Homo sapiens: one gene and its partners. Changing the gene in region 5 together with the main gene of any one other region gives a genetic interaction. Each region holds a gene or a part of one and is shown on either strand. Other genes may lie near its edges. The genes, in order: TRAPPC11, ARL5A, ARL5B, MAN2A1, SEC24B and MAN1A1.

Region 1 (4,862 bases), about 74 Mb from region 5:
AGCACTGCTGACATTTCGGCCAGGTAATTCCTTGTTGTGCAGGGCTGTCCTGTACGCTGTAGAGTGTGTGGCAACATCCCTGGCCTCTACCCACTGGAAGCCAATACAGCAACCCCCTCAGTTATGGCAATCATAAAAGTCTCCAGGCATTGCCAAATAGTCTCTGGAAGGTAATGCTGCTCAGTGAAGAGTCATTACAGCAGGGTATAGCACAGAGGACAACAGCTTTCTAATGAAGGCTTCGTTGAAGCCTTAAATGTTGAGTAAGAGAGAGCCCAGAAAAGGAGAGCTGGCAGGTGGGCATGACTATGAAAGCATCTGACAAGGAACAGCACTGTGAATAGGAAAGCACTGAAGTGCAGAGTCAATGGTGAGCTGTCCAGGCCTGGAGAGCTGAGGCCAGGTGTGATGCTGGGATGAGCCTCAGTGGAAAGAAAAGCTGCCTGAGTGTGCTACCAGCTGCCCCTCTCTTCTCTCTGTTCCCTATTGCTCATATGTCTGCATTTAAGGAATAAAACTCATTTATTCTTTTCCTCTGAATTCTAAGCAATTATCTCAATGTTACCCTGGGCACCATGGACTTGATTTTCTGTGGTGTGAATTCTACTGTTTACTGCTTCCAGTGTAAAGATTTATTTTGCTAATTGCATTTAAGTTTCTTTGCAATTCATCTTTTCATTTGATCCTATTCCTCTGCATGTTCTCTGCTAAATGTATGCTTCTCTTTCTTAGAAGCCTGGTCTTTTATATACCAGTGAGAAGGCCAGGTAACCTCCTGCAGCGGATCATTTTCAGAGGTTTGCTTCTGAGAAAGAAACAAATGCAAGAGAAGCAATACTCAAAAATAAATAAAACTGTTCATGAGTTAACGAAGGACACTTATGCAGAATGAAAAGGAAAACCATTTTACAGTCAAAATCAATGAAAATATTCATATCTAAATACATCCTAGCATAAAATGTACTACTACAAAACTTCTGTGTGACAATAAATGCTACAAAACAATGAATAATGACCACATGATTTTTGAGGTAATGTTGTGTCTCCAGGTAATCTGCCCTTTATACACAAAGGCTTTATAAAAATATTTAAGATATGATAGGGCTCACACCTTCCTAAGAAATTAGTGACATAGATACATCGACAGCTCAAGAATGAAGCAAAAACAGGCCAGAGTGGAATGGAGACACTCTCACAAAAAAGGACATACATGTCACTCAAGGACATGGGTAATTACTGGAAAGTATAATGGAGAAACATATAAACTTTGTTTCTTTAAATAAAGTTGACCTAGATGCACATATGGAAGCATGTTAATGAGGTAATGTTAAGTGGAAGATCACTGTGTATCATATGAGCACATTTATGTTTTTGTGTTTGTGTGTGTGGTATGGATACTATAAAGAAATACATATATTTGTTCTTATACAAAAAGACTTTTTTTGGAAGGAAACTTGAGCAACTGTTGATACTGGTTACCTCAGGGAATTGGAGAGGGTTAAGAATTTAACAAAAAAGACTTTTATTTTTACCCCATAGCCTCTGTATCATATGAATGTTTTTCATGAACATGATTTTTTAAAAAAATAAATGGGTCTAAGCTACCAATTTCTCAATTCTTAATAATCTAAAAAAACAAAACTTTAAAAGACCTCTACTTACCTTATAATATAACCCACAAGGTGGTCAGTGTGCGGCAGTACAAACAAAGACTTTCCTGAGAGTTCACATGCATTGCATAAAGCTGCAGCCCTTTCTGAAGCAATGACATCTTCTCCTGTTGATAATCCCCATCAAGATGAATGAGAAATAAAATAACTAATGTAGCTTCCCAAATAAATATTTCCCCAAGTCTGAAAAAATAGAATTAGGAATAAAAACCCAAACAGCTTTTCATCACACCAACAGGACTCCTGGGCTCCTTGAGAGCTCTGTGTGGTTCTTAGAGGTTACACAGTATATGCCTTTTAGGAAAACACTGTGGAATTTTCTACTGAGCCAGGATAGGTGGCCAAGTAATGCCAACAGATATACCACATAACTATTTCAAAAAACATAACTAAAACTGGAAGCAATAATTCATGAAAGAAGTCTCCAAAACCATTTTGGATGCTATAAGTTTCAACACAGAAACAAAAATATATTTTGGTCTACAAAAGTCTGGGAAAGTGGAAATAAGAATCTGAAACTAAGACATTTTCCAAGAGAAAACTACAAATCCTATAGCCTTTTTCTTTGCCCTACAGAAAATTAATGAAAAAATTTCATATAAGGAATACAGCTTCAAATAGATCTTAGATAAGTAAATTATATTCTTTTTTGGAAAGCTTTGGAAGTCAAAAAAAATTATACTCTTGTAAAAAAATTCAAGCGAATTGTTTTGTGAATTGAACATGCCTTCCTATATCCCCTACATAAGAAGACAAGTGGAACAGGGGAACTAGGGGAACTTGAGATTTGCATTCTTCACTATCTTTAATTTTTTACAATAAGCATTTGTTCATGTATCATTGGTGCTTTTTAAAGTTAACATACTATCAGCCCCATAACTGAATGCATAAAAGATTTAAACATCCAAAAAACCCCTATCTCCCTTTAATAAGAATTGGAGGTATAAAACAATTAATTCATTAATTAGACTTCTGATACCTGGGGGCAAAGGGGTTTTCTTCTGAATCAGAACCACTGCAACTTTTGTGTTTCTTCCTTGTAAACTTTGCCTGCAATGAAAAAGCAAGAATAAAATTAATTATTTTAACTTAAAAAATGTATTCATGACTTCACATAAAATACAACCTTGGTCATTCAACCGAAGATAAATTTCAACTAAAAAAACCAAGATCAGAAGAAATCTTTTCCTGCACACAAAGCACATATATGTCACAATGATTTAAATTCTAAAAGTATGATCTCACATCTTCTAATCTTAAAAATCTTCCTTAAAAGCAAAAGATTAATGTATACTTTTACGTAAAAGTTATAATGCAACTTACTTCTTTATGGTGATACACTGCAGAGTAGTCATCCAAAAGAATTAATTATTTGAAACTTAAACAGTGATAAAGCAAAGCGTTTTAAGAGACTAAACAGTAAATTACTATGTCTCCAAAAAAGATAATACAAGAAAAACATTTGGAAATTCAGACCAATTAGTCTTCTAAATTTCTTCACGTACCCAGCATTATATACAGTCAATAATTATGCTACCTGTGAGGAAGTGAACAAGATTCACTGGAGGTCAATCCGCAAAGTGACCACTGCAGTCTGAACGGTACTCCATTGCCTTCAAGGAATGTTAGTGAATAACACACATGTGCAAACTGACATAGCTGCCCTGACACAGAAGATCATACCTGACTATTTCCACTCTGGTGGCGCACTCAGACTGCTTTTCTTTCCACTGAGGCTCATCCCAGTCCAGTTCATAGAACACAACCACCAGGGCTGGCACCAGATTCAGATGCTTATTCATCCAGCCAGTCTTTAAGATCCCTTTAGGAATGTACCACTCATATGAAGTTCTCTGCAAACATTGGCAGAAATTGAAAAGTTACCTGACAGGAGCAGAAACCACCTGTTACTGAGTGCCAAGCACTTTATGTGCATTGATCTCATTCAATATACACACCTCCCATTTTTGATTAGGAAACTCAGGCTTACAGATTCAGTAAGAACTAGTAAGTGTTGAAGGTGGAATCTCAACCCTGGAGAAGCTATACTTCCCATTTAAAGAATGACTGAAGCCAAAGAGTTTCTATCAGCCCCATAACTGAATGCATAAAACGATGATGCATGTCTAATGATGTCAAGGGTCTCAAATACTTTGCTAAAGAAAAAAAAAAAAAAAAAAGTAGCCCATTTCCAGGTAAATTCTACTTATATTCTTCACCATTCCAGCTTCTGTTCTTGTAAAACTGCTCAAATAAAATATTATCTAAAATCCAATAGGCTTTGTTTATTTCAAAGACATATTGCTGTGATGCATTTCACCTCACTTGTAGATGAAGTACAAAGCAGAGAACAATTCTTAAACAGAAGCTTCACAGCAGCCACTTGAGTCTGGGCACTGAGTGCCACAGAGTGGGAAGAGGATGCTGTAGATTTGAGTGTTAGCCCTGAGGGATGCAGTTGAAACCTCACATTCCTTCCAAATCAGCTGTGCTGGCTCAGACTACTCCACTTCATGGTGATCCAATGTCTACCTCCAGCAAGGAAAGATGAGGTCAATAAGGAAGTCTGACACAAAATAACATGGGGACTCAGCCAAAAGCTGGGAATAGAGAAATGAAAAGCAGCTTGAATTCGAGCATTAAGAGAAAAGAGGGCTTGTGCTGGGCTCCCTGCCTTCTTGACACAAACATGACACTAAAGAAAAATAATCATGTAGGCCTGGCACGGTGGCTCACGCCTGTAATCCCAGCACTTTGGGAGGCCAAGGTGGGCAGATCACGAGGTCAGGAGATCGAGACCATCCTGGCTAACACGGTGAAACCCCGTCTCTACTAAAAATACAGAAAATTAGCTGGACGTGGTGGCGGGCGCCTGTAGTCCCAGCCACTCGGGAGGCTGAAGCAGGAGAATGGCACGAACCCAGGAGGCGGAGCTTGCAGTGAGCCGATATCGCGCCACAGCACTCCAGCCTCGGGGACAGAGCGAGACTCCGTCTCAAAAAAAAAAAAAAAAAAAAAGAAAGAAAAGAAAAATAATCGTGTGAGGGCCAGGGCTGGGATGCTATTACTTGCACAATTTCAGAGAGCTCAGTTTCCAGGGCTGAGTATATGAAATGTTGTCGTGTGGTTCTCAAACACACACAAAAATAATCAGCCGGTGACCAAGTCCTATATTCCCAGAAACCAAAGAGG
Region 2 (4,862 bases), on a different chromosome or scaffold from region 5:
CTCCATCTCTACTAAAAATACAAAATTAGCTGGGCGTGGTGGCACATACCTGCAATCCCAGCTACTTGGGAGGCTGAGGCAGAAAAATCGCTTGAACCCAGGAGGCGGAGAGTTGCAGTGAGCCAAGATCATGCCATTACACTCCAGCCTGGGCAACAAGAGCGAAACCCCGTCTGTGGTCTTTAGTCTCCCAGATCCACAAACAATTCTGCTACTATCCCAGAATAGACAGGACTCAGAGAGAGCAATTCATGGAAATGACTAAGACATAAATAAGAACAGCAAATGAGTAACATACAATAAGATCAAATGTTGAAAAATGAATGACAAGTAACAAGTCTATCCCTGAGGATATGTTACATGATGGCTGAATTAAAATCAGATGATTACTTGGGGAGCATGGAATCCCAACCACAAGGAGTGTTACAGGCTGCAATGACTGATGTGAATCCTTTCTTTTTTTTTGAGACAGGGTCTCACTCTTGCTGCCCAGGCTGGATTGCAGTATCACAATCACGGCTCACTGTTGCCTCAACCTCCCAGGCTCAAGTGATCCACCCACCTCACCCTCCTGAGTAGCTGAGACCACAGGTGTGCACCACCACGCCTGGATATTTTGTTTCTTTTGTAGAGATGGGATGTCCCTGTGTTTCCCAGGCCGGTCTCAAACTCCTGGGCTCAAGCAATCCTCCCGCCTCAGCCTCAAAAAGTGCTAGGATTACAGGTGCAAGCCACTGTACCTGGTCTGAATTCATCTTTAGAGCAAGGCCATGCCTGCATGAGGGCCAGGTAATCGAGTCCTTGGGACAAGGTACCTTTGCACCTAGAAAGTTTTTAAATAGCATGGCAATTCTGCCTAACTCCATTTTTCTATGTCCCAAAATTAAGCATTCCTTTTTTGATGATGTAACTCCTCTTCAGTTTTATTAATACACGCACTCATAAACATTTTTAACACAACTAGAATTCATTATCAGGCTATACTCTGATCTCTGACTTGGATAAGAGTTTTTAGCTTCCCAGGAGAATACTGATTTTTAATCACAGCATTCTCAAAATGTCAGCTTATTTTTAAGTTACGGGAATATATCCCGCCCCCGCCTCCACCCCATTCCCCCAATGTATTAGCTACGGGGCAGAATTTAGATGGGCTTCTCAATACTTGGGAAGAAAATACAATTACTCTGACCAATGAAATACCAGAGAAAATACAACTACTTTGACCCTAAAAACAGTACAAAATTAGCAGGAAAAGTCCAAAAGGAAACAAAAACATAGGCAAGAATCTATAATATATAACAATAAAGAATGACTAAAAAATGTGTATATGTATAAATAATGTACACAGAGACAACGAAGTAAAAAACAGTACTCTCTCAGTTTCTTACAAGGGCCGTAATCAGCTAAGGAGGTTAAACACTTATTCCAACCATGTTACCATTTTTTCAAAATAGTTTGCTACGGTTCTTTTATAATTGCTTTCAGAGCCTGAGGTACACCATTTTGAATATTGCCACCTAATGGTGGCAAATCTTTTAAACTCTGAAGATGAACTTGACTTTAAAGTGGGAGATGAGCCACCTCGTATCATCTTGGTCATAAGGTAAAAGGTATCTAAAATGAGTGCCATTTTTTTTTTGTTAAGTGAAATATGAAGAATTATTTAAAAATTTGTTTCCAAAGAACTTCTGAGTTTCAAAGAATAGATTGAATAATAGTAGGACATACCAGTGGAAAAACTATATAGCCTCCTAAAATGATAGCTTTAAAGTAAAACCTCATCTGGCTTTAGTACAGGTATTTTTTTAAGTGGTCTCCTTACTTCAGCCATGTCCTTAGGACTTGGTTACTATGTCCTAATTCCAAACCTGGTGCTTTTCTAACAGTTCTGTTAGGAAAAACTAGCTAGGCAAAAACTACTGAAAAAAAAAAAAAGACTCTTAGGCCAGGCATGGTGGCTCACACCTGTAATCCCAGCACTTTGGGAGGCCGAGGCAGGTGGATCACAAAGTCAGGAGTTCAAGACCAGCCTGGCCAAGATGGTGAAACCCCATCTCTACTAAAAATACAAAAAAATTAGCCTGGCATGGTGGCGTGAGCCTATAGTCCCAGCTACTTGGGAGGCTAAGGTAGACGAATTGCTTGAACCTGGGAGGCAGAGGTAAAATTCTTTATCATACCTGGCCACTAGCTGAACATGATCACCAAGGTAAAACTGCTGTGAACAAAACCATGTGCTATAACACACAGACAAGTCTAAGATAAAGCAGATGGCAGAAATTACTCATTCCAGGATTTCATCTTATAACACAACTTAGTTGCCTACTGAGGAAAGGAAAAGGTTAACAGTTTCAAGATGCATCATCTTTTACAACCACTGTATGGAATGAACTAGAGTATCAATAAGCTGAAATTAGATAACCTATCCTGTGGTGGATTAGGATTTAAACTGCTTTAAATCTTTCTTTAACAGTGCCTAGAAATAAAGAAGGCACACTGGAGAGAGAAGGTATAGTAGATGATACAGGGTAGGAATCCACATGTCTGGGCCAGGCACAGTGGCTCACGCCTGTAATCCCAGCACTTTGGGGGGCTGAGGCGGGTGGATCACTTGAGGTCAGGAGTCCAAAACCAGCTTGGCCAACATGGCGAAACCCCGTCTCTACTAAAAATTCAAAAATTAGCTGGGTGTGGTGGCACACACTTGTGGTCCCAGCTACTTGGGAGGCTGAGGCATGAGAATCAGTTGAACCTGGGAGTCAGAGGTTGCAGTGAGCCAAGATTGTGTCACTGCACTCCAGCCTGGGCGACAGAGTGAGATCCTGTCTCCAAAAAAAAAAAAAAAAAAAAAAAAACAGAATCCATATGTCTGGCATGGTGGAAAATGTTAATAGAGAAAAGCGTGTCGGAGACAGTGATAAGAAAGAAATGAAGTGGCTAGCCATGGAATTTGGGCCGGGAAAGAAATCCAGTCCTGCCCTACAAGGTTAAGAATGTCCGGAAGTCCTAGCAGGTGAAAGGTTAGGTTATTGTTAGGGTAGAAGGAAAGATGAAAGGTAAAATGGCTATGAACAAGAGGAGAGAAATTAGCCAAGGTCTGAAGCTTTGGAGGACCCATAACCTTCTGTCTGCACCTGAAAGTGAATAACTAAATCCAGGTAAGATCATTAGATAAACATGATGAAAAAGGATGAGTGTGACAAAGCTAGCTAAGCCTTAGCCCAAATCTTCCCCTAACTCTTCTTGACCTACGTACTAAAACTTAGAAAAGCTGCTCTACTCAGTCTCTAGAACATGTCATAAACTTTCCAATCATTTAACTTTGCTCATGCCATTCTCCACACTACAATCTTACTCTTCTGCCTACCTATTTTACAAATTCAATGAATTCCTATATACTTACAAATGCATAAATATGCAACCATGCCCCCAAACTCTTAAGACCTAAGCAGATTTCTAAAGTCAATCAAGGGAAACCAAACTAATATATTTGAACATATCATATTCTTACCAAATGGTTAAAATACTTCAAAAACAAAAAGGAGGAAAGAAACTCCAATCAAACATAAGCAGAACCTGGAAAATATCCAAAAAAACCACATGTAGTCATGTGGTCTGAGATCTCTGGAGGGCCATTCCAATGAAGAATCCATGATCCAGAGGATCTTTACCTCCTTACTCCACCCAAACACCTACAAACTACATTCATTACAAAGTTCTAGTTGCTTCCTCCCAAGACGTAGCTCTATTTGAGTTTTTTTGTATTTTCACAATAAAGCACCAATGACTTTTTTGAGACGCAGTCTCGCTGTTGCCCAGGCTAGAGTGCAGTGGTGTGAGCTTGGCTCAATGAAACCTCTACCTCCCAGGTTCAAACGATTCTCCTCCTGCCTCAGCCTCTCAAGCAGCTGGGACTACAGGCAGGCACTACCATGCCCGGCTTTCTTTTTTTTTTTTTCTTTTTTTTTTTTTTTTTTGAGACGGAGTCTCGCCGTATGCCCAGCTAATTTTTTAATTTATTTATATTTATTTATTTAGAGATGGAGTCTCGCCCTGTCGCCCAGGCTGGAGTGCAATGGCATGATCTCGGCTCACTGCAACCTCTGCCTCCCAGGTTCAAGGGATTCTCCTGCCTCAGCCTCCCGAGTAGCTGGAACTACAGGTGCGCACCACCACGCCCAGCTAATTTTTGTATTTTTAGTAGAGACAGGATTTCACCATATTGGCCAGGCTGGTCTTGAACTCCTGACCTCATGATCCACCTGCCTCGGCCTGCCAAAGTGCTGGGATTACAGGTGTGAACCACCTGCACGTGAATCATCAGAAGTTTACTGTGCCTGGCCTAATTTTTGTATTTTTAGTAGAGATAGGGGTTTTGCCATGTTGGCCAAGCTGGTCTTGAACTCCTGACCTCAGGTGATCCATCTGCCTTGGCCTCCCAAAGTGCTGGGATTACAGGCATGAGCCACTGCGTCCCGGCCACCAATGACCATTTTTAATAGCTTCCTAAATCTAAGACATAGCATGTGGGTCACAATGAGAACTATAAAATTAAGACCAAACTGTGCAATGGGCTCAAAGACAAACGTGTCATCTCAATAATAGGGTCAGATTAGTCACAAAGTTTTTAATAGTAGATCAATTTCCTCTGAACATCCTTACTCTCACCACCACAGCCTGTTCCTTTCATTAGCAAGATGGAAAAGCATCTATACAAAATGTAAATTTGTAGCCAAAAAGTGCTATAATGCACTTCGAAATAAAGACTTCATAGAATCCCAATATGCCTACTACAAGAATGTTATTGTGGACAAATGCAATAAAACTTTCAGCCATTCCAACTCTTTGATGCACAAGAATCA
Region 3 (4,862 bases), on a different chromosome or scaffold from region 5:
GAATAGAAGGGACGTGTTATTCTAGGCAGAAGAGCTAATATGCAAAAGGGAGAGGAATGAGCTAGTTTGGTACTTTTAGGGAAGCTGAAAATAGTTGAGCTTGGCTGTGTGTTAGTTTGCTTGCGAGGAGTGAAGAGGAGATGAGATTGGAAAGACAACCAGGAGAACCTTATCACAGAGGGCCTCCAGTGTTGACTAAGACATTAAACTCTCTAGAGCAAGGAATGGGACTCACTGAAGGGTTTAATCCACAGATGTATCTTAGCCTATATTTTTGTTTTCTGCATCAACAAAATTAACTACCAATCTCAGCATTTTCCATTTTTGTAACTATATTTATCTATTCCAGTGGAATTAGATATATTAGAATAACAGGCCCAAAGCGCCACCTCACACCAACTAAATTAGATTGGGGTGAAGAGGCCTGGGCATCACTGCCAAGGTAAATCGAATGTGCAGCCAGTGTTAAGAACTACTGATCTTACTTTATGTGCTCCTTTCCCGTGTCTTTCTTCCAGTATTTCCACATTCTCATCCTTTTTTTTCCTGTAGCATTTTAGAGTCTCATGCGTCTTATAAATTAGATACCTTTCTGTGAATAAGTATACTAAAGCGTGTGTTGTCTAAGTAAAGCAATGTAAAAGTTAATTCCTGCAATTTTGTATTGTTTGAACTGGAAGCCTGTTTACTTCGACAGTTATTATTCAAGGAAATAATTTGGAATTCTGATTATCTCTGCAAACATTTTATATGTTAATGTAGTTCTGTGAAATACATATGTGTTATGTGTGTTTGATAGCTCACCTCTAAAGTTTTGCATTGTTTTTTAAATTTCTTTTGAACTTTTGTAGGCATAGTCTTTTTCTCTCAGTGTTATGATTGTGGAAACCTGTCATCAGTTATTTCTTTTTTTGTTGTTTGTTTGTTTTTTTTTTTTAATGAGATGGAGTCTCACTCTGTCACCCAGGCTGGAGTGCAGTGGTGCGATCTCGGTCCACTGCAACCTCCATCTCCTGGGTTCAAGCAATTCTCCTGCCTCAGCCTCCTGAGTAGTTGGGATTACAGGCGCACACCACCACTCCGGCTAATTTTTGTATTTTTAGTAGAGGTGGGGTTTCACCATGTTGGTCAGGCTGGTTTTGAACTCCTGACCTCAGGTAATCCGCCCGCCTTGGCCTCCCAAAGTGCTAGGATTACAGACGTGAACCACTATGCCTGGCCCAGTGATGTCTTTAAATTTTATTTATTATTGTTATATTTTCTGTCACCCAGGCTGGAGTGTAGTCCTGTGATCTCAGCTCACTGCCACCTTTGCCTCCCAAGTTCAAGCAATTCTCCTGCCCCACCCTCTGGAGTAGATGGGATTACAAGCACCTGCCACCATGCCTGGCTAATTTTCGTATTTGTAGTAGAGATGGATTTTACCATGTTGGCTAGGCTGGCCTCGAACTCCTGACCTCAGGTGATCTACTCGCCTCCCAAAGTGCTGGGATTACAGGCGTGAGCCACTGCACCTGGCCAGTTATTTCTAGTGTTACCCAGAATTAAGAACAAATGAAATACAGTTTTAATTGTAGTTCTTTTTCAGAACCATGTAACAGTAACATCTTAATTTCATAATTTAATCATTTCTTTCCAATCCATGAATTTCATGTTATCATTTTGAACACTGGTTGCCAATTGCGTATGATTATTGTCCTTTACTTCTGACTGCTCAGATCTCAGATCTTGTGGCTCACATTTCTCTCTTTAGCTTATTCTGCTCTTTTTTTTTTTTTTTTTTTTGAGATGGAGTCTCTCTCTGTCGCCCAGGCTGGAGTGCAGTGGCGTTATCTCGGCTCACTGCAAGCTCTGCCTCCCGGGTTCATGCCATTCTCCTGCCTCAGCCTCCCAAGTAGCTGGGACTACAGGTGTCTGCCACCACGCCCGGCTGATTTTCTGTATTTTTAGTAGAGACGGGGTTTCACCATGTTAGCTAGGATGGTCTCGATCTCCTGACCTTGTGATCCTCCCACCTCGGCCTCCCAAAGTGCTGGGATTACAGGTGTGAGCTACTGCGCCCGGCCCCAGCTTATTCTGCTCTTAACTCTGGACTGTAAGCAGGTTTCAAACACACTAAACTTAAACTTATCATCTATCTGCATCCTGTCTTCCAGACCATTCTTTGTTTTTGTTTTGTTTTGTTTTGTTTGAGACGGAGTGTTGCTCTGTCACCAGGCTGGAGTGCAGTGGTGCAATCTCAGCTCACTGCCACCTCTGCCTCCCAGGTTCAAGTGATTCTCCTGCCTCAGCCTCCCAAGTAACTAGGACTATAGGCACCTGCCACCATGCCCGGCTAAGTTTTGTATTTTTAGTAGAGACGGAGTTTCACCAAATTAGCCAGGTTGGTCTTGAACTCCTGACCTTGTGGTCTGCCCACCTCAGCCTACTGAAGTGCTGGGATTACAGGTGTGAGCCACCATGCCTGACCTGGCTAACTTTTTTCTTAAGAGATGGGATATTACTGTATTGCCCAGTTTGGTCTCAAACTCCTAGATTTAACTGATCACTTCTCCTTGGCCTCCCAAAGTGTTGGAATTACAGGTGTGAGTCATTGCACCTGGCCTAAAACATTCTGATTTACTGTAACTGATAGTAACAGTAGTGTCTTTTTTTTTTTTTTTTTTTTTTTTTTGAGATGGAGTCTCGCTCTGTTGCCCAGGCTGGAGCACAGTGACCCGATCTCGGCTCACCGCAAGCTCCGTCTTCCGGGTTCATGCCATTCTTCTGCTTCAACCTCCCAAGTAGCTGGGACTACAGGCACCCGCCACCATGCCCGGCTAATTTTTTTGTATTTTTTGTAGAGACAGGGTTTCACCGTGTTAGCCAGGATGGTCTTGATCTCCTGACCTCGTGATCCTCCCACCTCGGCCTCCCAAAGTGCTAAGATTACAGGCGTAAGGCACCACGCCTGGCCTAACAGTAGTGTCTTAACCTAACATTTCCTCATGTTAGGGACCTACCTTTCAAAATGGTGCATTATTGGTGAGTTTTACCATCACAGGCCTTCAGTATTATGTGAAGCATCATAGTGCAAAAGTGAAGCAAGGAGCAGGATTGTTTGCAAATGACCTGGGTCTTCATTTGAGTTGCTTCAAGAAGGAGCCATCTGGTACTGTCCTTCCATTCCTTTCTCCCAACAGGATTATCTGCCTTCAAGTTTTGCTTATCTTTAAACTAGTGGCTTCCTTCTCACCACTGCAGGCATGTTGTTTTCTGTAGATGCTTGGTAGGTGGAGCTTCTAGCTGTCACCAAAATTTAGAATGCTTAGTGCCAGGCAGTCTGTTTGTTCCTCACTGATAAAGGTTCTTGTACTTTAAGGGATAACAAACAGGGTAATACTTAAAGATTAGCTTCATTAGAGGACATGTAGCCAAGCTTGGTGGTGTGCACCTGTGGTCCCAGCTATTCAGGAGGTTCAGGTAGGAGGATCACTTGAGCCTGGGAGGTCGAGGCTGCAGTGATCATGCCCCTGCACTCCAGCCTGGGCAACAAAGCAAGACCCTGTCTCAAATAAATAAGGAGAATTATAGTGAGTTATACTAAGCAGGCAAGTTTTGTTTTGTTTTACAAAGCAGCTTCTACCATAGTGAAAATAGCCCTTCCAGAGGACCGTGTCTGTTTATCCTGCACTGTAATAGGCTGTATCTAGAGTGTGTAGGTCATTGGAAGACCTGCACATCTCAAGAACTTAAATTTTCTTGGTCCCTCTTTTTTTGGCTGATGAAGTTTAGAACTTCAGAGTAGGAATATGAGCTGATAGTTGATTATATGACCAGAATGTTGACATTCACCAGAGGTCATCAAGAAGAGCGGGATTCTGATATGAGATGTGCCCAATCGTTGCCTACAAATCAACTGTGTTGTGATTCTGTGGAAACTTCCCTACTTACCCTGTTGATGTTAACTTGTAACTTTTTAAGCATTCTTCTGCCTTGGAGAAGGGGATCTTTAGTATACTTGGCATAAGTGAAAATCTAGGAAAGATGGTATCTGGGTTGTTTTCTGTATTCAAAGGACATTGCAGAATATATACCACTTAACGGAATAATTAGATGAGCTTTAGCAACTACTTATTAAAAGAGGTGAATATTTAGTGCATGGCACCCAAAGGAGGAAAGAACTGAAGAGATTTTCATTGTACAAAGAGCAGAAACAGAATCTGCTCAAAAGAACTGTAGAAGCCGGTTGAAAAAATGTTAAACAATGAGTAATTGTGTAAAAACTTGAGAGTATATGTTTGTCTTTGTGACACATGAAACGTTTCAATTTTAAGCTTACATGGGATTTTTAAGTGAGAGGAAGAAACAGATCCTGGTATACATAGGTGGGGAAACTTACAGATATGAAAACATTTTGATAAAAAGCTAACTTGATTGGTACAGAGCTAAAAAGGTGTGTAAAACAGGCTTTTTAAAAAACTTACATTTAGGTTATAATTTTTGCCTAGATTAATATTTGGGTCTCCTCTCCCCTAGATGCAATATAAGTGACCAACTTTGCTGGTGTTTCCTGCCTACCCATCTCCCACATTCTTTTACATGAGAACTAGACAGAGAATCAATGATAATTGATTTTGTTACTTAACCTAGGTAGCCTTAACATCATAACATTTCTTTCTGCATTTTAAGTCTAGTGATAGATATTCAGTGAATGATTCTCATTAATGAGCTAACTAATAATCATTGTTGAAAGCATGTAATTGCAGTAATGCAGTAGTGTTAAATGTTTATGATTTGCTTTCTTTTTGTAGAACACAAAGTAATTATAGTGGGACTGGATAATGCAGGGAAAACCACCATTCTTTACCAATTGTAAGTAT
Region 4 (4,862 bases), on a different chromosome or scaffold from region 5:
AAATTACTAACTATATTCAAATTGTATTTTTATGTCTAAGGAATCAAAAGTCTACTGATTCCAGACCAATTCTGAAATACATCCGCTACTGCTGAAGCATTACTCATGGAAAAAGAACTTGCTTGAAGATTTTTTTTTTTTTTTCCTAATTCAGTTACGTTTCTTGAAGGCTCTACAGACCAGGCATCCATAGGCAAATTCATATTGGAGAAGTACGTAGAAACTCCTCGCTAATCACGTTTTCAATTATATTATTTTTTCCAATACAGAAAGCAACTTTGGATCTATGCCTTGAAGACATTTTTGTTGTCATGCAACAACAACAAGAAAACCTATAAAAGAAGTTAACTTCTTTTTTGCAGAGCATTAATATTTCCTTCAGAGATGTAAGTGATCATGATCAATGTTATTAATTAAATACATTTACATGGCAAATCTATAATTTTAATGCTAAAATCTTATGGATTTGAGTTCATGCCATAATCTAACTAAACTTCCCAACATATTCAAATGTTTTCCTAGACAGCATTAAGTGTTTTCACCATACTAAAACACCATACGAATATGGTTCAGTTATGACAGCAAGACCCTCAATCTAAGTTCCTTTCTATTGTCTACAGGGCTATCTTTATTAGGCAGCCTGAATCTGCAGAGTGAAAGTCATGTTCTCCACCACCTAAAACCAGATGTATTAAAGAGTCCTAATTAAACTGAGTGAAAGCCAGGATCAATGTCTGCATCCTAAAGGCACACATGCAGCCTTCTCATAAGATGAGTACTAAAGACTACAGTATATCACTCCCCAAATGTTTTCTCAGGATGTATAGAGCTGCTTTGCTTAAAACAAAACAAAATGAAACACAGTACATTTGGGAAACATTGGGTAAAACAAAATTCTAAACGTTTCAACATTTCATTAATACAGGATTTTTTTCAGGGCCTCTAATTTCCAAACATACACTTATCCTATTAATACGGAATACGGTTCGGGAAAAATCACTTGGGAATCACAGTTTCTTAGTTTGCTGTTATGGTTGTTGTATTAAGGAGATGTTAGCATGTCTGCCACTATATAGTTTGTCTACATTTTAGGACCCTCACGCTCACCCTGTGTTCCGTTTTCTCCCACCTACCTTAATTACAAGTTAGGAATAATTAGCGGAATTCTAAAACATTTCTCTAAATGACCTCATTACCATTTCTTCTTCCCTTCTACATAAGCCACATTATCTATTAATACTTTTAAGCTGACTATTACAAACATTGTCCCAATCTAATTCATTTTTTTCATGCCATGATTAGAATTAATCTCCAAATATGCCATGATGTATTCTTGCTTTCCAGTTTGTAACTATATACACATTCGATCTATTGTTGACAGCATGCTCTCAGATTCCCCCTACTATGGCAGAGGAGAAAGAAGGGCCTGAATGCCTGATGACACTGCAGAGCTGCCATACCAGAACCAGTTGTCTACAGATTTTTTTCATATGACATAAAAATAAGCAGGACAGGATTTATTCTGTTTCTGGTTGCTATTACTCGCAGCCAAATGCACCCCTAATTCATAAACTTGTTCACAGTGATATTTCTGCCAAATTTGAATGAATAGTAGTCATCAGTCCAAGTTCAAGAGAACACCCAATACTAACTACCTCTTTGTTAATAATTCTCTAACTTATGTTTTGAAATTTCCTCCTTAAAATGTCTGTGCTAATGACTTGGTAATTGTTTATGACTTTTCAATGAACTGTGAAGTACTAACATAGCAAATTTACAAATGCCAAGTACAGTTTGAGACTTACTACCTTTTTTTCTCTAACACGCAATTCTACACGGGGAAGTTTTTATAAGCTAAAAGCAACACAAAACATATGGAGGAACCAATGATAGCTCTTCCAGACAGGTCAAGATACAAAAAATCTTCTGTAGCCAAAGCTCAATGACCTATAAGCAAATCTCTTTCGATATGACAGCCAGAGATAGCAAGTGGGCGGTGTAGGAAAATGACTTTTCTATGTCCTCTTAGGAGCTCTACCCTGGTCTGATTCTAAGCAGTCTCACTTTTAAACTCTCAACAAACCAAGCAGGCCAGGAGCAGGTAAGAAGGAAAAAAGGAGGATCTGACCTTACTTTCAAAAATGGTTTCTGTGGGAGAAATACCATCTTTATCATCTAATGAGGGTTTTCTACTTTAACCCCAGATCAACCTCGACAGGTGGGTGTCATATATATTTGCCATTAAAAAATGGAGAAGATATTCAAGATACTACTTTGAATGCATTTTTTAAGGACTGAAATCAACTAATGAAAACCCAAGAATATCTTTTTCCCCCAATTTCTAGAAAGCCAGTCAAAATATTGTAACTAAAAATTTAATTAACATTTACTACAATTAGTAATATAAGTCGTGAGTCAATTTTTTAACATTGATTTTATGTGTTGTATACGCTTTTCTCATCAAGGAGTAGTACTAAGGATATTCACTTTTAAAATCTATTCTTTAAGAAAATCACAGTATATTTTAAATGACTTTAAAATGTTATCAAAGCACAACACTGCTGATAAACAGTATCAGGAAGAATAGTCTAAACTACAGTAAATAAAATAGTCAAAACTCCTTCCCCAATCTAGGAATGCCCCCTGCACTGATCCTAATGAATGAATGGTCATCCAAAGGCTGGCGTGAGGATAGAGAACTCCCTACTACAAAAGGTAAGATTTCTTCCCCCTTATTAGGAAGCTCTGTTTGCCAAGTCCTCTGTTATCTCAGACCATGCCTATACTCATTGTTTCAAAGTCTTTAATATAGAAATAACTTAGCTTCTACTCCCTTGCCCATCTGAGAGCCCTTCAATGAGTTAAAGATGGCTTTGATACCAACACCCAGGTCATCCTTTCTCATTCCCAATGGCTTATATCATCCACATATGATAAGGTTTATAGGTCTTTTTCCTTCCTGGCTATGCTTCTCAGCTTATTATGTCAATATGCCTCTTAAAAAAAAAAAAAGAAGTATACAAGAACAATTGGATATGAAATAGGATGAGATTAAACTGACATACAATGAAGTAGGAATCTTTATCTCTCTACATTATAACTATGTTTTATTTGATGCCAAGTCCTTGGTCAAGAAGATAACTCCAGTCTCCACACTGTTATTTAGAAGAAAATAGGATCAGCTTTAAACAGTAGTAATAATATTTTACTACCCTATTTGCAGAAATGCATTGCAATAAAAAGTTGGTGCAGCTGGGACTCTGTCAACAGATTTCTTAATATTTGAATATCAGTGCTGTTTTGATACAGTAATACTTATGAGGGATATCATTGTTAATGTGGTTTGATATACACTAACAACTTCACCAAAAGATATAATCTTATTACCCATAATTTTAATGATTTTTTTAAAGATGATTTTTCTATAATTAGATTACCTGGTACCATAATCCACAACCACCCAGTCTTTTGCAGTTCCTGTGATAGCATCATGATGTTGAAACAGTCCCAAATTCCTTCTGGCTTCTGTCAGTGCCGTGTAAAGTGATGATGAGAGAAATTTATTTATCTTGTATTTGTGAGCTTGTCTCAGGGCGAAATAGTAAAGAATTTCAGCAGCCCTAATTGCATAAAAGTCATATTTTTATTTTAAAACAAACACTTTAGCTTATAATCTAAAACTTGTGACATTGATACTTTACAAATTTTTTAATCCATAATTGCAGTACAAGCAATTTATGAAAAAGATATTGGTAATAATAGTTCATATAAAACAACCAATGTATCCCGTATAACACATTTACGTTCTCAATCATCAAAGAATACCATGTCTACACTGGTATCAGGAGTCCTTGTTCTAGATGATCCTGAAAAAGAAGCCAGAACCTGTTGGCAGCAAGACAGGCTTATTTATGAATAGCACAGTGAAAAAAATCTGAAAAATTGGATAAATTTCTCTGTCCTTTCTTCTCTCCAAGAGCAACACACACATAGACCATGAACATCACCAGAATATCATTTACTCTCACATATACACATTAAGAGAAATGAGAAAGAAAGGCATGGTCGGTGAGCGGGACACTCAGAGGAGAGGAGAGGCAGAAAATAATGGCCCAAGAATAGTTCAGGGGAAAGGGTTAGTTTCAGTTTTGAATGATAACATATAACAAATACAGAGAATTTAACAATACAAACTGAAAGATGATAAACAGTATGTCGGCTGGGCATGGTGGCTTATGCCTGTAATCCTAGCATCTTGGGAGACCAAGGCAGGAAAATCACTTGAACCCAGGAGTTCAAGACCAGCCTGGACAACATAGAGAGACTCTATCTTAGCCAGGTGTAGTGACATGCACCTATAGTCCTAACTACTCAGGAGGCTGAGGTGGGAGGATCACTTGAGCCCAAGAGTTTGAGGCCGCAGTGAACTAGGATCACACTACTACACTCCAGCCTGGGCAACAGAGCAAGACTCTGTCTCTTAAAAAAAAAATGTCCTTTGTAGTATATTTTAAAGGAAAAAACCTTCAGTCTAAGAAGAACATGGGGGCTATAATTTCCACCTTTTATGTTTTTTCATCAGAGGATATGGCTCAAGATAAGTTTTTCTTAAAAACTTATTTAAAAGGAGACATGGCTTGATGAAGTAAAAAGTATAAGAAGGTTCTATACACGAAACATGTTTTAAGGACAATGCAGACAGAATCAAGGCAACTTGAAAATGTTATCAAGATTCAGAAAAGAGGAGACACTAGAAATACTTTGTTTGTAAAATGATGCATTTCTCTAAACTGTAGAAATAATCAAAGGAGAGTAAACAATCTCCACTTTTAAATTCTAATCCTTCCAAAAATCATGAAGTA
Region 5 (4,653 bases):
ATAAAGTAGAGGTCATATAAAACAATATTTAACCTCACTCATAATTAGGAAAAAAAATAGTAATTTAGCATTTCTTTCATTTACCAGATTGTCAAAAATTTTAAAATTTGATAATAGGCAATCATGTAGACAGTTTAGGACAGTGGACACTGTTGAGCATTATTGACTGGAATATATAGTACTTATATAACCTTTTTAGAGGGCCATTTGACAATGTCTGTGAAAATCATGTTCTTTATGACACGGTAAATTATTCTGCAAAGAATGTGTCCCATAGATATATTCATAGAAGTAGGCATATATACACACATGCTTATAGTATTAAATAATAGCTGTGCATTTATTAAAAAGAATACAGTCTGGGGCACTGTGCCATGCACCTGTGGTCCCAGCTACTTGGGAGGCTAGGAGGCTGAGGCAGGAGGATAGCTTGAGCCCAGGAGTTCAAAGCTGTAGTGTACTATGACTGCACTTGTGTACAGCCATTGCACTCCAGTCTGGGCAACCTAGCAAGACCCCATCTCTTAAAAAGAAAAAAAGAAGAAGAATACAGCCTGAAGTGAATAATATGCATGATATGATCCCCATTTGTATTTTCAAAAATGTGTTTGTATACTTAGTAATAATTTAGAAAACATCTGAAAAAATTCACATCAAAATGGAAATGGTTTTTAAAATATTGACCGGAATTACAAACATAATTATTCCAAACTTGTCTATTTAAATTTTGTTATATACTACATTTTTGAATTATTTAATTTACTGTTAATTTGCTATTTAATTTACAGTTGGCTTTGAAAAAGGAAAGTAAATCTTACCTTTTTATGTATATAAAAAATAATAGACTTTTAGGTCCTTTTAAAATAGTCTCGCGTATAGTTTTAAAATATATTTACATATCCACACTGTACTTTAAAATTCTTTGCCTTTAAATTAAAGAAAACATGAAATTCTCCCAGAATGGCTGTTTTTAGAATAGGATATAATCATATATAATTGCTAAGGGAATTTGGAATTTAATGGTATCCCCCTTCATTTGAACATTTCCTCTAGAAGAAACATAAAGCCGCCACACAATACTGGTGACATGCTAATCGTTGTTTATGTTTTATTGACTTACCAAGAAAAATATAGTCAGTTAAAATGTCAGTGACATACTTGTCATTGCACATATTTTATTGACTTATCCAGAAAAATATAAACAGATTTTTCAACAGTTTAAATTTTATTTGTGTAGTTGCTGCTGTTGAGGCTAAGAAATAGAGTGCTGGCAGTTGGGGGTGATGGTAGGAATCATGATTTTGTTCTATTACTGCTGAAGTCTATGAGAAAGGAAAGTTTCCTAATTGTATTTCTTTTACCAGACACATCTTCCAGAGCTAGATACACTTTCATCAGAAAGAGCCAGATCCTTCATAACTTGGCTTAGAGACAGCAGACCATTAAGTCCAATCCTTCACATAGTAAAGTAAGTACTTTTGTAACTTAATTATGAAGTTGTCTTTCCTATGTAGTCTGTGGAATTGCTTGTCTTCAAAGCAAACTTTAAATAGTAGCAAAATATATTCTGATGGTAAAATGTTGTTACTTGATTTAAATCCCCTGTATTCCATTTTCTGACATCTCCATATATTAGTAATTTTTAATTTTCTTTCTTTCTTTATTTAATTTGAGATAGAGTCTCACTCTGTCACTCAGGCTGCAGTGCAGGGGTGCTGCTATCACAGTTCACTGCAGCCTGGACCTCCCATGCTCAAGTAATCCTCCCAACTCAGACTCCCGAGTAGCTGGGACTGCAGGCACTTCCCTCCACACCTGGCTAATTTTTAATTTTTTTTTTTTCTTTTTTTGAGACAAAGTTTCGCTCTTGTCACCCGGGCTGGAGTGCGATGGTGCGATCTCAGCCCACTGCAACCTCTGCGTCCTGGATTCAAGCGATTCGCCTGCCTCAGCCTCCCAAGTAGCTGGGATTACAGGCGCCCACCACCACGCCCAGCTAATTTTTGTATTTTTAGTAGAGACAGGGTTTCACCATGTTGGCCAGGCTGGTCTTGAACTCCTCACCTCAGGTGATCCACCCACCTCGGCCTCTCAAAGTGCTGGGATTACAGGCGTGAGCCACCACGCCCGGCCAATTTTAAAAATTTTTTTTTTTTTTTTAAGCAATGGGGATCTTTCTATCTTGCCCAGGCTGGTCTTAAACTTCTGGGCTCAAGCAGTCCTCCCACCTTAGCCTCTTAAAGTGCTGAGATTACAGGTGTGAGCTGCCAGCCCAGTAATTTTTAAAATATATACTATTTTTAGAAATATGCACTTTTATTTTATTTGTATAAATTTACAGGATACAAGTGTAATTTTATGAGCTAGATTGCAAAGTGGTGAAATCAGGGCTTTTAAATACGTTTAGACAAATGCCCTTTTCTTTCTTCCAGAGATGAGAGTCCTGCCAAAGCAGAATTTTTTCAGCATTTGATTGAAGACCGGACAGAGGCTGCATTTTCTTACTATGAATTTTTGCTTCATGTTCAGCAGCAGATTTGTAAGTGAAGTAGAATAAAATTGAATAAGAAAAAGATCTATAACCTAGGTAAAGCATAATCTGTCAGAGAAGCGCGTGAGAAATTTGAAATGAAGGCATTTGTTAATACAAGATGCAACGCACAGCACTCTGTCTGAGGCTTTGGTAAAAAGTAAAGGGGAAGAAAGAACTTGACAGATCTTTTTCAACTCAAATTAATGGTAACGATGATGCTGTTTCACCAAGTATATTTTGAATTGGTTTCTACACATTTCCAGTAGTATGGCAGTACAGTGCTCTGTTCATTGCAAGCTGGCAAATTTATGTAGCTATGTGGAATGATATGTCATAATGTAAAATTAGATAAATTCTTTTTTCTTATAATTAATATAACATTTCTGGACTTGAACTCTGGCAAGAGATGCCAAAAGGCATTGGTACCGTGTTATTTGTTTATATGAATTACTTTTTAACAAGGAATGTTTCTTATTCATTAAATGAATTCAACATTTTCTCTGTAAAAACAATAGAGTTTCAGTACATGAACTATAGAAAAAAATCTATATATAATGTACATAAATGTTACATTTGTAAAGAAAATGTAAAAATGTAACTATAGCATATGAATTGCTTAAACTGTGCTGCATTGTTGGATGACAACTCTTTTTGTCACAGTTAGAGAATGAGGTTGACTAATGCATATTATGAATTGAGTCCACAAAGGAACACAAAACTCTTTGTAATTCTGTTAAATCTTTTATGTAGATTTATTTATGATCAGCCTACTAATTAAAACTATTTCGCTTGACAGTATGGTTTGGTGATTTTTTGGGGTTTTTGTTTGATTGGTTTTTTGTGGGGATTGGTGGGTTTTTTTACATACAGGATGTATTGAATTTACTAATTGGGGAAGTGCAGTGATACTGCATTTCAGTTAGTAATATATATGAATCAGGCCAGGCGCGGTGGCTCACGCCTGTAATCCCAGCGCTTTGGGAGGCCAAGGTGGGCAGATGACTTGAGGTCAGGTGTTCATGACCTGCCTGACCAACATGATGAAACCCCATCTCTGCTAAAAATACCAAAATTAGCCAGGGGTGCTGGCGGGCACCTGTAATCCCAGCTACTCAGGAGGCTGAAGCAGTAGAATCGCTTGAACCTGGAGGCTGAGGTTGCAGTGAGCTAAGATCACGCCACTGCACTCCAGCCTGGGCAACAGAGTGAGACTCCATCTTAAAAAAAAAAAAAAAGTAATATATATGAATCAATACACTTTCATTAGTCTGTGGACATTACCAAGTACTTATTCTGTTTGTATTCTAAAACAAATGGTGCTACTTTCAAAAATATTCTTAACTAGTAAGTATAATCTTAAATTGTCTTTCTTATTTACATTAGATATTTTTGCCTGCACACTTATAGCAAGAAAATTTTAGTAACACATATCACTATCCCATTTATTTAATTGACTTTAAGATTGCCATCTTGAATTTTGAAAGTGATTTTCTTCTGATCAAGAAACCTCTCATTCACTAACAACTTATTTACTATAAAAAACTCTTAAGGATCCATTAGATTATGGGACATAATTTTATTCTGTACACTATGAAAGTCCCCATCAACAAACTTTGGAAGGAAAAAGACTCTGCCAGGCATGATGGCTCATGCCTATAATCCTAGCACTTTGAGGGACCAAAGCAAGCGGATGGCTTGAGCCCAGAGGTTCGAGACCAGCCTGGGCAACATGGGGGAAACCCTGTCTCTACAAAAATACAAAAAAATTAGCCAGGGATTGTGTGCACCTGTAGTCCCACCTACTCAGGAGGCTAAGGTGGAAGGACATCCTGAGCCGAGGAGGTCAAGGTCGCAATGAGCTCTGACCACACCACCGCACTCAGTCTGGGAGATAGAGTGAAGCCCTGTCTCAAAAAAAAAAAGAAAAAAAAAGAAAAAGGCTTGCTGTGTAGTGGGTTATTTTTACTGTTTTTGTGCTTTCATGGATCTCATTTCTTTGGATAAAAATAAAAGTACTCTCACATTCCCTGCTGGAAATGAGAGGTTAAATGACTCACCCTAAATGACATTACTTACTAATTAGTGTCAATGCTAATAGTAAAAATCCAAATGTTCTCCCT
Region 6 (4,862 bases), on a different chromosome or scaffold from region 5:
GCTAATGAACTAAACCATCTTGAAAAATTTATCTTAGTATTACACAAAATGCATTTGTATGAGATCTGAATTGGTTGGAATTCATTGAAGAACTTACATATTTGAATCAGATTATTTCATAAGCTGTGGTGGTACAAATTTTTCATTGAAGAGAATTTTAAGCATGTGTCCGAAGGTCAGAGGGGAGGAATGCCTGCAGATCCGTGTGAGGGATGAGGGCTGAATACACAGGGTAGATCAGAATTGCACTGGAACCTGGTTATACCTCCTAACCCAGTCAAGCACCTGTGGTCTTTTAAATTTCTTTCTTTATAATCTTGTGTATGTTGGTCAAAGAAGGGTTTGATTAGTCAAAATAGGAACAGCCACTGTGGGCTCCAGAGATACTGTGAAACGAGTGGCAAAACAACCTCCCCGCCAAGTAGACGAAAATAATAAACAAGATACCTGTTTGGTAGTTTAGGGAAGAGATTCCCTCTTTGAGGAAATAAGTCTTGACTTTTCCCTCAGTATTCTTAGCCTAGTTCCTTGCTTGGTGTTCAGTGATTGAACTATATCTTATCCCCACCCCCAACCTCTCAATCTGTTAAAAGGCCCTTTACACAAACTCTGCAAATTATGCCATGATAACTTTAAATCTCAGATTTTAAAACTAAGTGTATGCTCCGAGTCGTAAGGTATTGCATCTGAATGAGATCTGAGAGGTAGCTCATTCATTTTACAGTAGAGGCAACCAAGACACAAAGATCATTCTGGAAATCACATCACCAGCTAGTGGCAGAGTTGAGTTGCAGAGGGAAGCCCCAGTCTTCTGTGAGTGTTGCGCATTGTCTCCCACATGGTTTGTCTCCTAAATAAAACCCCAAAGAATTGTATAAATTATCCGTGCTTACTATTTGCAGACCCTAATAGAGAGTACAGAAAACATACAATTCTGCATTATTATAAATTTGACCTTATACTAAGTTGGTGGTTTTTCTTTTTTTTTTTTTCAGCCAACGATGGATCAAAGTAGTTTTTAAGTCAATTATAGTAATTTTTAAAAATCTTACCAGTGGCATGGTTTAGAAATCTTCTTCTTTGTAAAGACACCCGGGGAAAGCTTGATAGGACATCTTGTTTTCTTTATAAAGATCTCTCCAAGAAGCACAGGCATTTGTAATCATTCAGTTAAACATTCTTTATGAGGAAAAGTGGGGAAGAAGAAGGAAGGGAGAGAAGAAGAGAGTGAGTTACTGTATATACAAAGGGTGAAAGGGGATCACCCAGAGAAGGGACATGTGATGACTAGAAGGGCTGCTTTAAAATTATAAATGTGTGTGCTCTTCTGATATTGCACCATGGATAATAGAAGAATGACAGCTAACCTAAAGGATGATTGTTTTAAAAGTAGACATGTAAAAATCACACCAATCTATGGGCAATTCTCTCCACCCAAGTAGGTTCTGGCGATTCTCTTTTGGGATGCACTTACCTGTCTCTGATCCATCCATTTGAAGCAATGTAGTGGTTAGAAGGGTGGATCTGGACTCAGATAACGTGGGTCTGAATCTGGCCTCTACCATTCTCTTGCTTTGTGACCGTCTGCAAATTACTTAATCTCTCAGAACTTTAGTTTCCTCATTTGTAAAATGAGGTTAATAGTACCCACTTTGTTGGATCCTGAGGCTTAAATGTGATAGTAAAGCACTTAGAATGGTATCAGACATGAAGTGGGCACACAACAAATGCTGCTTGTGATTATTGCTGTTACTGGTCACCACCTAAAGCCATCAAGCCAAGATTGCATTGATCCATATGCTGTTTAATAACTCAGGAAAGTGGATAATGAAGTTTCAAAAGGGTATCAAAAATAGTTAAAATTGAGTTTTAGTGCTTAAAGGGATACATTTCCAGTTCATCAAAAAGATCTTCCATACCTATAATTTTATTTTGCTACGGTCAACTCTGATTTTCTTTGATTTTTACCAAATTCCAAAAAAACTTAAGTATCTTTAGAATGATATACTTACTGCATATACATCTTCAGCTTCTTCAGAATATATGTTAAAGAATTAATTTGTCTCTTTCTCATAGTCAAATATGCCTATTCCCGCAGATACCATCTTTCAGAGTAGTCACAGTCGAGTTATCTTAATTTCTCTTTTTTCTAATAAATAATTTTTTTATTTACACAATGCAGATCGGGTCTCACTATATTTCCCGGGCTGGTTTCAAAGTCCTGAGCTGAAGCAGTCCTCCCACCTCGGCACCCCAAAGTGTTGGGATTACAGGTGTGAGCCACCATGCCTTGGCTGAGTTATCTATCTTAAGTATTGAAGTTATTCTTCTAAATAGAGAGAGAGATCGAGTAAAGTGAATTTCAATCTGTTTCATCTTGGAGGAATGTTTTTAAGAAGTGAGAATTATTATTTTAGGCTTGGCAAAAATTATATAATTATGATAAATTCTATAATCAGAGCTCAGTCCATCACTTAGTAGTCAAAGTTAGCATAAATCAGTTTTATTTTGTAGCTCAGAGAGTTTGGTCTTTTTGAGACCTTCACATTGAATTTAGATTTATTAGGATTCCAGACCCACTACTCATTTTACACATGAGAAATAAGGCCTGTGAGCTGTGACTTCCTGAGATTCCCCCAGTGTACAAACAATAGCTGAGAATTGCTTCTTAGGTGTTGAGAAGTACTGAGAACCAGGCCCCACTCCACCTGGGATAATCTTGACTCTAATGAGAACGTGTGCTTTGGTGACTGGCTGACCAGGCCCTCCCTCCTCCTCAGCCCTAAATGGCAGGCCAACTGCCAGAAGCCCCACTGAGACCATCCTAGAGGGAGGTGGGACGTCTTTGCTGGGTAGGGGATTGCCTAAGAAAGCAATACTGGCTAATTCCTTTGCTCCGGAGAATGTGGCAGCAGTGCCCCGCCCCCACTGAGTTTTGATAAAGACTTCTGTGATCATTAGGTACTTGAAAAAAAACCAAATGAGATTAAGGCTTAAGAGCATTTAAAAGTCACAGCCCTCATTTCTGTCATGAATACTCTGGTAGTTGCTTTAGGTACTTTAGAGCTGAGCAGTCCTGCAGATAATCCAGAACAGAGATAATAAAATTGAAAAGTACACGTATCCTTCCTGTTTACTTGACTTTTGTGACTAGAATGACTCCTTCTCGCTCGTGTTTCTCAGTCTGCTCATCTCCCTGGCTCTTAAGTTTATCAAAAGCCCAGTTCCTGATTTGCTCTGCTGCTTTCTCATCACTCTTGCTCTACATCGTTCATTCAAGTGACACTCAGAACATATTATATTAACTTTTCATTTGCATTGTTCATGTTTTTATGTGGGTCACTAATTAGATCGTCCTGTCTTGTGTGGGAGTGTTTAGTATTAGCAACTTAGTATGAGAGAGGGCATGGAGATGAGGGGATAAAAACCTGATGAAGGACACCAAGTTCTGAAAGGGTGGTTTAATAACACAGCATTGCTACCCTCTGAAACAACCTTTGTTGCTGGTGCCTGTTTGTCTGTGCTAGGAGTTTATGAGAAAGGGGGTGGCAGTAATTGGTGTCCGAAGGCCTGTGAATGACTATGGCCAAGACGTGAACTCAAGCCATCCATAGACTACAAGCTATTGCTAGTGTCTCCATTTCTGCCAAATCCTTCCTCATTAAATGGTCTTCTCAAGGTCCCTTCAGAACACTCAATTCTTCTAAGTGACAGGATGATCTCAGAAATAGGACAGGAGGCCAGGGATCCTAGCCTACACTGGGGGTGGCATGTCCAGCTTCCTGAGCTGATGTTTAGGTCATGATTGTCTGTCCCTAGTTCCTCTTTCACGGGAATACATGCTGGAGCTATGTACTAAAAGGGGAGTGTGTTTCCTCACTGTATCTCTCTCTGTCGGGGCATAAGACAAGAGAACAGACCTGTGGAATGATTAGGGAAGCTCAGGGGTATCTACCCAGTCTCAAAATCTCATTCCCAGCTGCCAGAAATTCACCACCAGTGTTTCCTTTTTACTGTTTTTGTTTTGTTTTTGTTTTTGAGATGGAGTCTTGCTCTGTTGCCAAGGCTGGAGTGCAGTGGTGCAATCTTGTCTTGCTGCAACCTCCGCCTCCTAGGTTCAGGCGATTCTCCTGCCTCAGCCTCCTGAGTAGCTGGGATTACAGACACCTGCCACCATGCTTGGCTAATTTTTGTATTTTTGGTAGAGGCAAGGTTTCCCCACATTGGCCAGGCTAGTCTCAAATTCCTGATCTCAAGTGATCCACCCACCTTGGCCTCCCAAAGTGCTGGGATTATAGGCATGAGCCACCATGCGTGTCCATTTATTGATTCTTAAAGGCTTGCTTTAGAAATAGATGGATAAAGTTGCTCAGCAGAATTATTAATATTATACTTTGAGATTTGTCTTATCAAAGGATAGAATAGGTTTGTTGAAGCAAGTATCTTCCATTGTCTTATTTCGCTTTATAAACTCATGTCTGCTTGGGAAAGAAAAATTTGAAAGCACACTAGAGTAGAAAAAAAAAAACAAATCCTTCATAGTTTTATCAGTCACTAAGTAGTGTCAATGATGCTCCTCCCTAACCCCAATATGTAAGTTCGTTCCCACCCCCCGACGCCGGGTTATAACCACACTATATATACTTTTTGTTTTTCATTTTCTTTGCAAGTGTCATTTTATGTTGGCACAGTATATCCATGTCAAAACATGATACTTTATTTAACCAGTCCCTTGGACCTGAACATTTAGATTATTTCCACTTTTTTGTTTTTATTAAAAATGCTGAGACAGACAGCTTTGTCCAGTAAATTTGTGTCTCACTTTTTATTGCACACACCCTGGTAAGTGGGATTTTCTCTTA

The links.
Region 1: changes in SEC24B (region 5) and TRAPPC11 together harm fitness less than expected from each alone (positive genetic interaction), as found in Homo sapiens cells (one large-scale study listed by BioGRID).
Region 2: changes in SEC24B (region 5) and ARL5A together harm fitness more than expected from each alone (negative genetic interaction), as found in Homo sapiens cells (one large-scale study listed by BioGRID).
Region 3: changes in SEC24B (region 5) and ARL5B together harm fitness more than expected from each alone (negative genetic interaction), as found in Homo sapiens cells (one large-scale study listed by BioGRID).
Region 4: changes in SEC24B (region 5) and MAN2A1 together harm fitness more than expected from each alone (negative genetic interaction), as found in Homo sapiens cells (one large-scale study listed by BioGRID).
Region 6: changes in SEC24B (region 5) and MAN1A1 together harm fitness more than expected from each alone (negative genetic interaction), as found in Homo sapiens cells (one large-scale study listed by BioGRID).

What each region holds. Positions count from the first base shown.
Region 1 is NC_000004.12:183,664,918-183,669,779, reverse strand, and holds part of TRAPPC11 (trafficking protein particle complex subunit 11), read right to left. Parts: intron 3,524-4,862; coding exon 3,354-3,523; intron 2,721-3,353; coding exon 2,650-2,720; intron 1,778-2,649; coding exon 1,663-1,777; intron 1-1,662. UniProt on the Homo sapiens protein: Involved in endoplasmic reticulum to Golgi apparatus trafficking at a very early stage.
Region 2 is NC_000002.12:151,817,831-151,822,692, forward strand, and holds part of ARL5A (ADP-ribosylation factor-like protein 5A), read right to left. Parts: intron 1-4,862. UniProt on the Homo sapiens protein: Lacks ADP-ribosylation enhancing activity.
Region 3 is NC_000010.11:18,661,782-18,666,643, forward strand, and holds part of ARL5B (ADP-ribosylation factor-like protein 5B), read left to right. Parts: intron 1-4,793; coding exon 4,794-4,854; intron 4,855-4,862.
Region 4 is NC_000005.10:109,783,502-109,788,363, reverse strand, and holds part of MAN2A1 (alpha-mannosidase 2), read right to left. Parts: intron 3,621-4,862; coding exon 3,438-3,620; intron 1-3,437. UniProt on the Homo sapiens protein: Catalyzes the first committed step in the biosynthesis of complex N-glycans. It controls conversion of high mannose to complex N-glycans; the final hydrolytic step in the N-glycan maturation pathway.
Region 5 is NC_000004.12:109,537,129-109,541,781, forward strand, and holds the end of SEC24B (protein transport protein Sec24B), read left to right. Parts: intron 1-1,364; coding exon 1,365-1,468; intron 1,469-2,432; coding exon 2,433-2,547; 3' UTR 2,548-3,768; downstream 3,769-4,653. UniProt on the Homo sapiens protein: Component of the coat protein complex II (COPII) which promotes the formation of transport vesicles from the endoplasmic reticulum (ER).
Region 6 is NC_000006.12:119,339,267-119,344,128, reverse strand, and holds part of MAN1A1 (mannosyl-oligosaccharide 1,2-alpha-mannosidase IA), read left to right. Parts: intron 1-4,862. UniProt on the Homo sapiens protein: Involved in the maturation of Asn-linked oligosaccharides. Progressively trim alpha-1,2-linked mannose residues from Man(9)GlcNAc(2) to produce Man(5)GlcNAc(2).